2 separate regions of the Homo sapiens genome follow, and region 2 is reported to be linked to region 1. The links are microRNA targets in miRTarBase. Many come from high-throughput screens and were not tested one by one. Region 1 holds a microRNA gene; the other region holds the end of a gene's coding sequence.

Region 1 (4,370 bases):
CACGGGTGCTCAGGAGAGAGTGCAGACTGTGCCTGGGCAGGACTAAGGGGCATGGTAACACCCAGATACAGACAACCGGAGTCCAGGGGACAGGGGCACAGGAAGGCCCCGGGGGTAGGCTGCACGAGGTGGCGACTGTGTCACCAAAGAGCACGTGGTTCTGGGAGGCTGCACAGAGCCAGGAGGGCCAGGCCTCACCCTGAGGGCGAGCTGGCCCAAGGCAGCGCAAGGGAGGGAAGCCCTCCTCTCTCCCGCCACACCCCGTGTGTGCGGAGCCATCAGATCACCCATCCGCTTTCTTCCTTAAGCAGGCTGAAAAGCCTTAGAAAGGTGGGAAATCCCCTGAAACTGACCAACTGCTGCACATCTGCGCTCCAAGCACTCTGCCAAGGAGACGCCTGAGCCCACCAGGACGGGACCCCCAGAGGCAGCCATTTCTGCCTGTCCCCAGCTCTACCCCTCAGCTCCTGGAGGGCTGCCTGGCACATGGCACCCACTCTCTAAGTGCTGCTGAATGAACAAATGAATGAATGAATAAATGAATGAATGACTGGTCTGGATCAAGAAGAGACTGAAGGGCACGGGGACCCTAGGGCACGGAGTGGGGGGTCACCTCCACCGTCGTCCTCCCGGAAGAACTCCTCGCTGTCGTTGGCCGAGTGCGACTTCTTCATCTCAGCGATCCGGTTCCGGGGCACCTTCCTCTTGAGGGATGGGGAGAAGAAGGCAGGCCGGTTGTTCCGTTCTGGGGTGGGGGGTGTGCTGAAGGAGGTCACCTGGGAACAAGCAGCCAAAGTCACCAGAGTAGCAGAACAGCCCCCTCCCCGGGGGTCCCAACGCCCCTCCTATCCCACCCTCAAACAACCTGACACAGCTCCCAGGGAAGAGGCCGCTGGCCCAGGAGGACCCAGGCCCAGCCGGCCCGTGCTAGGTGGGGCCTAGAGACTGGAAGATGCGTTCCAGCCCAGGGGCCAGCAGGACACCTGGCCACCAGTGCTACCCGAGGAGGGGCCAGGCTGCTGCCGCAAATGGCAGAAAGACCCCCCTCCTCTGGGCCTCAAACAGTGGGTAGGGGGTGTTCAAGCACAAAGTAACAACAGCTGCTGACGCTGAGTGAGCACTGGCCCCACACACAGACCCTCTGAGCCTCCAGCTCCGTGAGACAGGGGCTAGCGTCAGCCCATCTGACACATGGGGAAACTAAGGCAGGGACCGAGACCCTGGCTTGCCTGTGGTCACCAAGCAGGACGGCAGCAGCCCTGTCTTCTGTCCCCCAGGGCCACGCTCCTCATCCTACTTCTCAGGGCTGACGTGGCCCCATCCCTCTCATTCCCAGCACCCTTCACAGGAAATACTGTGCTAAGTAGCTCTATGCCTCTGTCTTCTCCCCACTTCTAATCACGTTTGGTTCTGTTCACCAAACATTCACACCCACTCAGGGCCAGGCAGGCACAGCACTAAGGACAGACAGGCACATTGCAGGTCCCTGCCCTCAAGGAGCTCACAGTCTGCTGGGGTGACAGACTCAGAGAGTGACAACCATAGACAGCATGCTGGCTGTGGAGACAGAGAAAGAGAAGCACAGGATACATGAAGCACAGAGGCAAAAGGGATCCACAGCCTGGGAAATCAGGGAAGGCTTCCTGGAGGAGATGCCGCTGGAGCTGGGTCTTGAAGGACGAGTAGGAGTTCGCCAGGTGAAGAAGGGGGGGAAGGGCGTTCCAGCCAGAGGGAACTTGGCCCATCTCCTCCCTCCTCCCCATGCCAACAATAATCTGAGGAGCAGGATGAGCTGGGACTGAGACTTCGGGAGCCCCGTCAGCCTCCTCGTCACGGCTCCGACATCCACCAAAGTCCTGGCAGCTGCTGGGCTCCAGACGGTGTTCCCACAAGCCGGGGAAGGTTTTTAAAAGATAAAAGAAACAAACAGCAGCAACCACAATACACAGAGTCAGCATGTGTCACGCACTGGCTCCAGACGACCCCGCCAGAGAAGGAGACAGGTAATAGCAGGCGCACAGGCGGCAGTCCCCAGGGGCCAGCCCTGCTGCTGACCCTGTGTGACCCTAGCACATCCCTCCTCCTGAATCCCAGGGCTGCCCAGCTGCTAAGGCACCAGGGACTTTCACACCCCTCACAGCCACTCCCGCTGGACAGATGGGAAAACCAAGGCTCAGGCAGGTCTAGTGACCTGTAGTCACTCAGCCCTCAGGCTGTGGCTGGAGGTGGCACCCGGGTTTGTCCAGCCCAGAGCTCGGGCCACATCTTCGTAAGGACTTTCACACACACATTTTGTCAGAGTCCCAGGGCATAATTTAGGACCAGGGAGAAGAACCAGGCCCTTTATCTCGGAAACAAACTCAGAAATATAAACCACCTCATTCCAAAGACAAGAGAGGCCCCTGCCTGGAATTCTCACCCATCTTTGCAAAAAATAGCACTTGCTGTCTTTGGCTTGCAAAACACATTCATTGCAGAAGATACCTCCCCCCCAAAAAAAGATATACAGAAGAGAAAGAAAACCAACATCTGACCACCCGGAGATATGCATGATTCAGATCTTTCTCGAACTAAAAGTATAACAAACGCACACTCCCTCATCTCAGGCATGCCTGCGGTAATGCATCGTTTACATTCCCACGCCTCTGCTTTCCAAGTAGGTCAACAGCAACTACTGCAGCTGCCACCTGGGAATCCTCCTGAGGGCCAAGCCCCGGATTCCTCAAAGCCTCCCAAATACTGAAGGAGCAGGTATCCTCGTGCCCTGTTTCTAGATGAGAAAACTGAGGCTTGGAGAGGAAAAGAGACACACCCAAGGTTATGAGAGCAGCAGAGCAGGATTCTGGCTGTGGGTGGCGTCTCTCCTGGACAATGGCTGGGCAAGACTGCCCCTGGACCTGTGCCAAGGGCACCCCCCTGCCCAGCACACCTGTACTCTTCCAAGAACTACAGCTCTGGGCAGTCCCTCTGGAAGAACCAGGTAGAGCAAAGCAGCCAGTGGGCTGGAGACCTTCTCCTGCCTGTGCCCCACCAAAGGCTTCTGGGAACAAAGCTGCTGCTGACCTCAGCCTCCCGCCCTGGGGAAGGAGAGTGGCCTAGGCAGAGCAGGGCCCCAAGCCCAGTGCTATCCCAAGAGACCTTGTGACCTGGGGCAAGCTGGCAAGTCTGGTTTCCGGCTGTGCGAGGCAGGAACGCCTCTCCTGCAGCAGAACCTCCTACAAACCGCGGGGCAAAGAGCTGGGTGGCCTAGGCCTCTGCATGCGCTGGCTGACCCTCAGTCACCATCATCCCCATCTGACTCACCGGGGAAGGCCGGCCACGTGCCCACGCTCACCCAGCAGGTCCACCCAGGCAGGCGCCAGGGCCGGGCCTGGGTCCCCAGCCAGTCTCTTCTGCCCACTGGCTCTGTGGACTCAGCCTGGCTTTGTGGCATCTCAGGGAGGCAGAAAGAGCTCTGGCCCAGCACCAGCCTGCGGTGTGACCTTGGCCAGGCACAGCCCTCCAGGTCTGCAAGGCAGGAACGCCTCCCCTGCGGCAGTGCCTCCTACAAACCGCTAGGCAAAGAGAAGGGCTGGGTGGTCCGGGCCTCCGCACGCTCGGCACCTCGGCCTGCGCACTGGTGGTTGGGGATGACAACACCTATGTCCCCAGGGGGCCGTGAGCACGGGGGAGACGGTGGAAAGTGAACTTGACGGATGGGAGCCCCCGCCCCCAGCTGTGCAGCCCTTACCCGCTCGTGCATGGGCGAAGCTGGGCTGGAGTCCTCTTCAGTCCCACAGGGGGATGTGTCACCTGTAGACACTCGGCTGACCGCCATCTCGGCGTGGCCCTTGCCCTGGGGGCCCTTCATGCGCACAAACTCCATGTTGCTGTACTTGTAGAAGCCAAACGACATCTTCTGTGCCATGCGGGCGGCCACGCTCACCTGGGGGCCGGCGCGGGGCAGCCTGAGTCAGGGAGGTGGCGATGGCTCCATGGGGCCCCTCCCCAGGACATGAACAGCCAGGGCGACCATCCCTCAAGGAGCGGGGGCTGCCCGGGAGGGAGCGTCTGAGCTGGCAGGCGGGGCAGCTGGAATGGACCCACATCTCTGCCTGGTGCCCCTCCTGGTGCCCCTCCCACCGCCCCATGAACCACGGACCAGGCTGAGGACAGGGCCCCAGGCTGGCAGCAAGGCTGGCTGCGGATGGTGCCCGCTGGGGGAGAGGGGCCTGCCCACATCTGCTTGCTTAGTTGGGGGCGACTCGGAGCACTCCCAGGGCCAGTCGCAGGAAGCAAGTGACAGTGAGGAGGTGACAGCGACACCATCAGCCATCACTTCCCAGGGAACTAGAGACTGAGGAGGAAGTTCCCGCTCACATTTCAGATGA
Region 2 (4,299 bases), not on the chromosome of region 1:
GCACAACTGCTGGAGCCCGGTCCCTGTCGCAGGACCACAGCCTCCTCCAGGGCCAGGAGTCTTGTGTGTGGGGGCCTTCATTCTCCCAGAGACTTAGACCCTGCACGCTGTTGGCCCCATATCTGGGTTCCCAGAGGAGGAGTGAGTTGGCCGAAGTCACACAGTCAGGAGGGATCTGGGATCTGAATCCAGGCGTGCTTGGCCCCATGGCCTGTGTGCATCCCTTCAGCCAGGGTTTGTAAGTTCAGTTGCTTGCCGTGCCCAGACAGTTAACAGGAATGAACGGTCAGCTGGGCAGGGAGGAAGGGAGCCTGTGTCCGAGCCCTGGGGACAGCTGCTGTTGTGGTCCCATGCCCTGAGGCAGTGTGGAACCCAGTGATTTGGGAAGAGAAGCCCAGGTCCAGAGTTTTAGGTCAACTCTCCCCATTTAAGTGATTCATTCATATTTTTCAGATTCTGGGGACCTATGGGTGGTCCCATTCTGGGAAGTAAGGGCTGGTGGTTCTGGGTCCCAACATTGACCCTACACTCAGGAGCCCTCTTTCCTGCCCCATCGTAGACCAGACACAGGGTCCTTACCTCTGCCTTCAGCCGAGCCACTAGGGACCCGTTTGCACCGTCCCGGGTTGCGGGTGTCCTGGGCTTTGCTGCCACCCACAACCTCTACTCAATGAACGACTGTGCCCAGAAGATCCTGCCTGTGCTCTGCGGTCTCACTGTAGATCCTGAGAAATCCGTGCGAGACCAGGTGAGGCACAGCTGGGCCTGGGCCCTGGGCTGGGGCTGTAGGGGATGTCAGCCCCTAGCTGGCCTGGTAGGTTCTTGGGAACCCCAGAGACCCCAGCTCTGCCTCGTTACCCCACAGGCCTTCAAGGCCATTCGGAGCTTCCTGTCCAAATTGGAGTCTGTGTCGGAGGACCCGACCCAGCTGGAGGAAGTGGGTGAGTGGCTTACACTCGTGTTCCCTCTTTCCCTGCCATGTCCTTGACTGTGACCTGTTTGTGTCCCACCCCCACTGGAGTTTCTGAAAGGTCCTAGTGAGCAGACTTGACTCAGCTCCCCCTTCACAGATGGGAGAAATCAGGCCTGGAGAAAGGAGGGGTGGCTGCAGGGCACTGTCAGTTCCTGCTGTCCTGTCACCCATGGGTGCCTGACGTGCCCATACCCACCTCTCTCTCATGCCACTGCCCAGAGAAGGATGTCCATGCAGCCTCCAGCCCTGGCATGGGAGGAGCCGCAGCTAGCTGGGCAGGCTGGGCCGTGACCGGGGTCTCCTCACTCACCTCCAAGCTGATCCGTTCGCACCCAACCACTGCCCCAACAGAAACCAACATTCCCCAAAGACCCACGCCTGAAGGTGAGTGTCCTGGCCTAGCTGCATCAGTGGCTGAGAGGGCTGAGAGCTGCAGGCACCCAGGAACTCTTACTGTCTGACTCCCCCGGGGATGGTGAAGGGGATATAGGAGCTGGGTAGGCTCCAGTCACCCTGTGGGCTTCCTTGGTGCCCCTTCCCCCCAGTAGCCCCCTTCCCCTAGCAGCCTCTGCCCTGTCCCAAGACCCCCCTGAAAGCTCAGTGAGCCTCTGCTCCCCAGGAGTTCCTGCCCCAGCCCCCACCCCTGTTCCTGCCACCCCTACAACCTCAGGCCACTGGGAGACGCAGGAGGAGGACAAGGACACAGCAGAGGACAGCAGCACTGCTGACAGATGGGACGACGAAGACTGGGGCAGCCTGGAGGTGTGTGGGGCTGAGGGAGCCTCCCCAGGGGACCCCAGCTCAAATCCACAGGCTGCCATTCAGGGAGCTTCTGTGGGGCCTGGCTGGAGTTGGCCTGTCCTCATCAGCACAGCATCCCTGGCACGTAGGCCTCATGGAGTGGCCATTGTAGGCCAGAGCCAGCAGCAGGCCCCATTCAACCCCAGCGGCCCCAGGGAGCAGGCTAGGCAGATGGTGCCTGGGGCATTCCCTGAACTTCCTCACTCTTACCCACACCGTCCCCCTTTCCCCTCCTCCAGTGCCCACCCAGCCATGGGGGTCAGCAAGGAGAGGCCACTCCTGGGTCTAGAACCAGACCAGTTCTGCTTGGGGGATGGGCTCAGGTTGGGCTGAGGGAGGACTGGGGCTGTCCTCAGAATGGGGCAGAGCTGGGGGCCCAATTTCCCCATCTGGCTGACAGCAGCAGTTTCTGGCCCTCAAGGCTGTTGGAAGGGGCATCTAGATCTCATTCCCCAGCCTTAAAGAGGGGTGAGGGCAGGCCAGGGTCAGCGTCCATTTAATAGATGGGAAACAGGGCCTGAGGAGCAAATGAGGAGGAAGGCAAAAGACAGTGGTGGGGCCCGTGGCTGGGATGATGCTGGGGCGGGCTCACTTGCCCTTTAGCATGGGGTGGGAGTCAGTGGTCCCTTCCCACACTGCAGCAGGAGGCCGAGTCTGTGCTGGCCCAGCAGGACGACTGGAGCACCGGGGGCCAAGTGAGCCGTGCTAGTCAGGTGAGCTGGGTCTGGTGGGGAGGTGTGTGTATGGGGCTCTTTCCTCCTTGGGCCCAGGGCTACTTCCCCCTCCCGCTCTTCTACAGGTCAGCAACTCCGACCACAAATCCTCCAAATCCCCAGAGTCCGACTGGAGCAGCTGGGAAGCTGAGGGCTCCTGGGAACAGGGCTGGCAGGAGCCAAGCTCCCAGGAGCCACCTCCTGACGGTACACGGCTGGCCAGCGAGTATAACTGGGGTGGCCCAGAGTCCAGCGACAAGGGCGACCCCTTCGCTACCCTGTCTGCACGTCCCAGCACCCAGGTACCCAGCACAGGTCTGGCGAGAGGGTAGAGATGGTGGACCTCAGCCAGAAGTGGGCCCCACTGCAGCCCACACTTCTCTTTACAGCCGAGGCCAGACTCTTGGGGTGAGGACAACTGGGAGGGCCTCGAGACTGACAGTCGTAAGTGCTTCCCCTGGGTGGGCTGAAGACTAGGGCTCCCCGACTAGCCCGCCCCTACAGGCCCCCGGCAGGCACTGGCTGGAGAGCTGAGACCGGGGCTCCCCTTCCTGACGCCAGGACAGGTCAAGGCTGAGCTGGCCCGGAAGAAGCGCGAGGAGCGGCGGCGGGAGATGGAGGCCAAACGCGCCGAGAGGAAGGTGGCCAAGGGCCCCATGAAGCTGGGAGCCCGGAAGCTGGACTGAACCGTGGCGGTGGCCCTTCCCGGCTGCGGAGAGCCCGCCCCACAGATGTATTTATTGTACAAACCATGTGAGCCCGGCCGGCCCAGCCAGGCCATCTCACGTGTACATAATCAGAGCCACAATAAATTCTATTTCACACCCCTTGTGCCGGGCTCAGTCTAGCCCCTGGGAGGCGGCTGGGGTCTGGCGCCGCCCTGCGCAGCCCGCGCCCACGTCAGACGTGAACATCAATTTGCTTCGAAAGCCAAGGGTAAAGAGGCACGATCTGATTTATCAGTTTCTAGGAAACACCCTCTGGGAGGAAGGCAGGCAGCGCCCGCCGGAGACCTTACAACCGCCCGCTAACCGGGGAGGGGGGCCGGTAGGGGCGCCTCGGGTCTCAAGGCGCCGGGAGGGTCTGCGGGCCCTGAAGGTCCCTGGGTCCGAGCCACAAGTCGGGGCAGAAGTGAGGCCGAGCTCGCGGAAATCCCTCAGTGATCACCGAGGTCTGGGCCGAGGGCGGCGTCGGCGGCGTCAGCGGCGGCGCTGGGGAACGCAGGCCCCGTGCGGGCGGCTGCGCGCGAAGCCGGCTTTGCAGACGCAGCGGAAGGAGCCGCTGGTGTTCACGCAGCGCTCGCTCTTGCACAGCAGCCCGCGCTGGTTCAGCTCTCGGCACTCGTCGATATCTGAAGGTGAGGGCGACAGGTGCGGCTTCGCTGAGCCTCCAGGCGGCTCCTCACCACCGGCCCCGCCCCTGCCCCCACCCCCGAAGCCCGGCTCACCCACGCAGCGGGCGCGGGAGGCGTCGAGCTGGAAGCCGCCGGGACACTCGCACACGGCGCCGCCCGGCCGCGGCACGCAGCGGCCACTCACGCAGCGACACTCGTCTGAATCCTCCTCTGAACTGTCCTCATCTGCGTGGCCCGGAACAATATGGACTTCAACACTGAGCCCCGGCCAAAGGCTACCAACCCCGCCACCGCCCGACCCGGCAGCACTCACCTCTTGGGGGCTTCCCCAACAGCAGGGGGCTTGTGTCCCAGAAGGAATTGCTCTCGCTCTGCGATGTCGGGCAATGGGACCCTGGGAGGAGCAGAACTGGTCAGCGACGTCCGGGTCCCCGGGCCCTGGCCCCCATCCTCGCTCC

What was found. The annotated mature microRNA hsa-miR-1249-3p reads ACGCCCUUCCCCCCCUUCUUCA and lies in region 1 at 1,699-1,720, opposite strand. An mRNA with a match to its seed (bases 2 to 7 or 8) in the 3' UTR can be bound and repressed. Matches are read on the target gene's strand: a 7mer-m8 pairs with bases 2 to 8, a 7mer-A1 pairs with bases 2 to 7 and ends in A, and an 8mer does both.
Region 2: the mRNA of LTBP3 is a reported target of hsa-miR-1249-3p. The part of its 3' UTR that is shown has no 7-base or 8-base seed match.

The regions. Positions count from the first base shown.
Region 1 is chr22:45,199,260-45,203,629 of GRCh38, forward strand. MIR1249 (microRNA 1249) reads right to left here and starts at 1,760; the gene lies at 1,695-1,760. It overlaps KIAA0930, which reads right to left. Exons shown (of 10, transcript NM_001009880.2): 7 at 3,731-3,925; 8 at 614-776. RefSeq lists an enhancer at 3,068-3,212 and a cis regulatory region at 3,140.
Region 2 is chr11:65,535,394-65,539,692 of GRCh38, forward strand. It overlaps LTBP3 (latent transforming growth factor beta binding protein 3), which reads right to left. Exons shown (of 28, transcript NM_001130144.3): 26 at 4,155-4,235; 27 at 3,935-4,066; 28 at 3,166-3,838. The coding sequence ends at 3,687. SCYL1 (SCY1 like pseudokinase 1) reads left to right here. Exons shown (of 18, transcript NM_020680.4): 11 at 560-748; 12 at 866-941; 13 at 1,193-1,357; 14 at 1,593-1,735; 15 at 2,416-2,487; 16 at 2,574-2,789; 17 at 2,877-2,931; 18 at 3,049-3,311. The coding sequence ends at 3,173. Among named protein-coding and RNA genes, the nearest start is that of SCYL1, 12 kb to the left of the region's middle. RefSeq lists enhancers at 2,611-3,115, 3,116-3,619.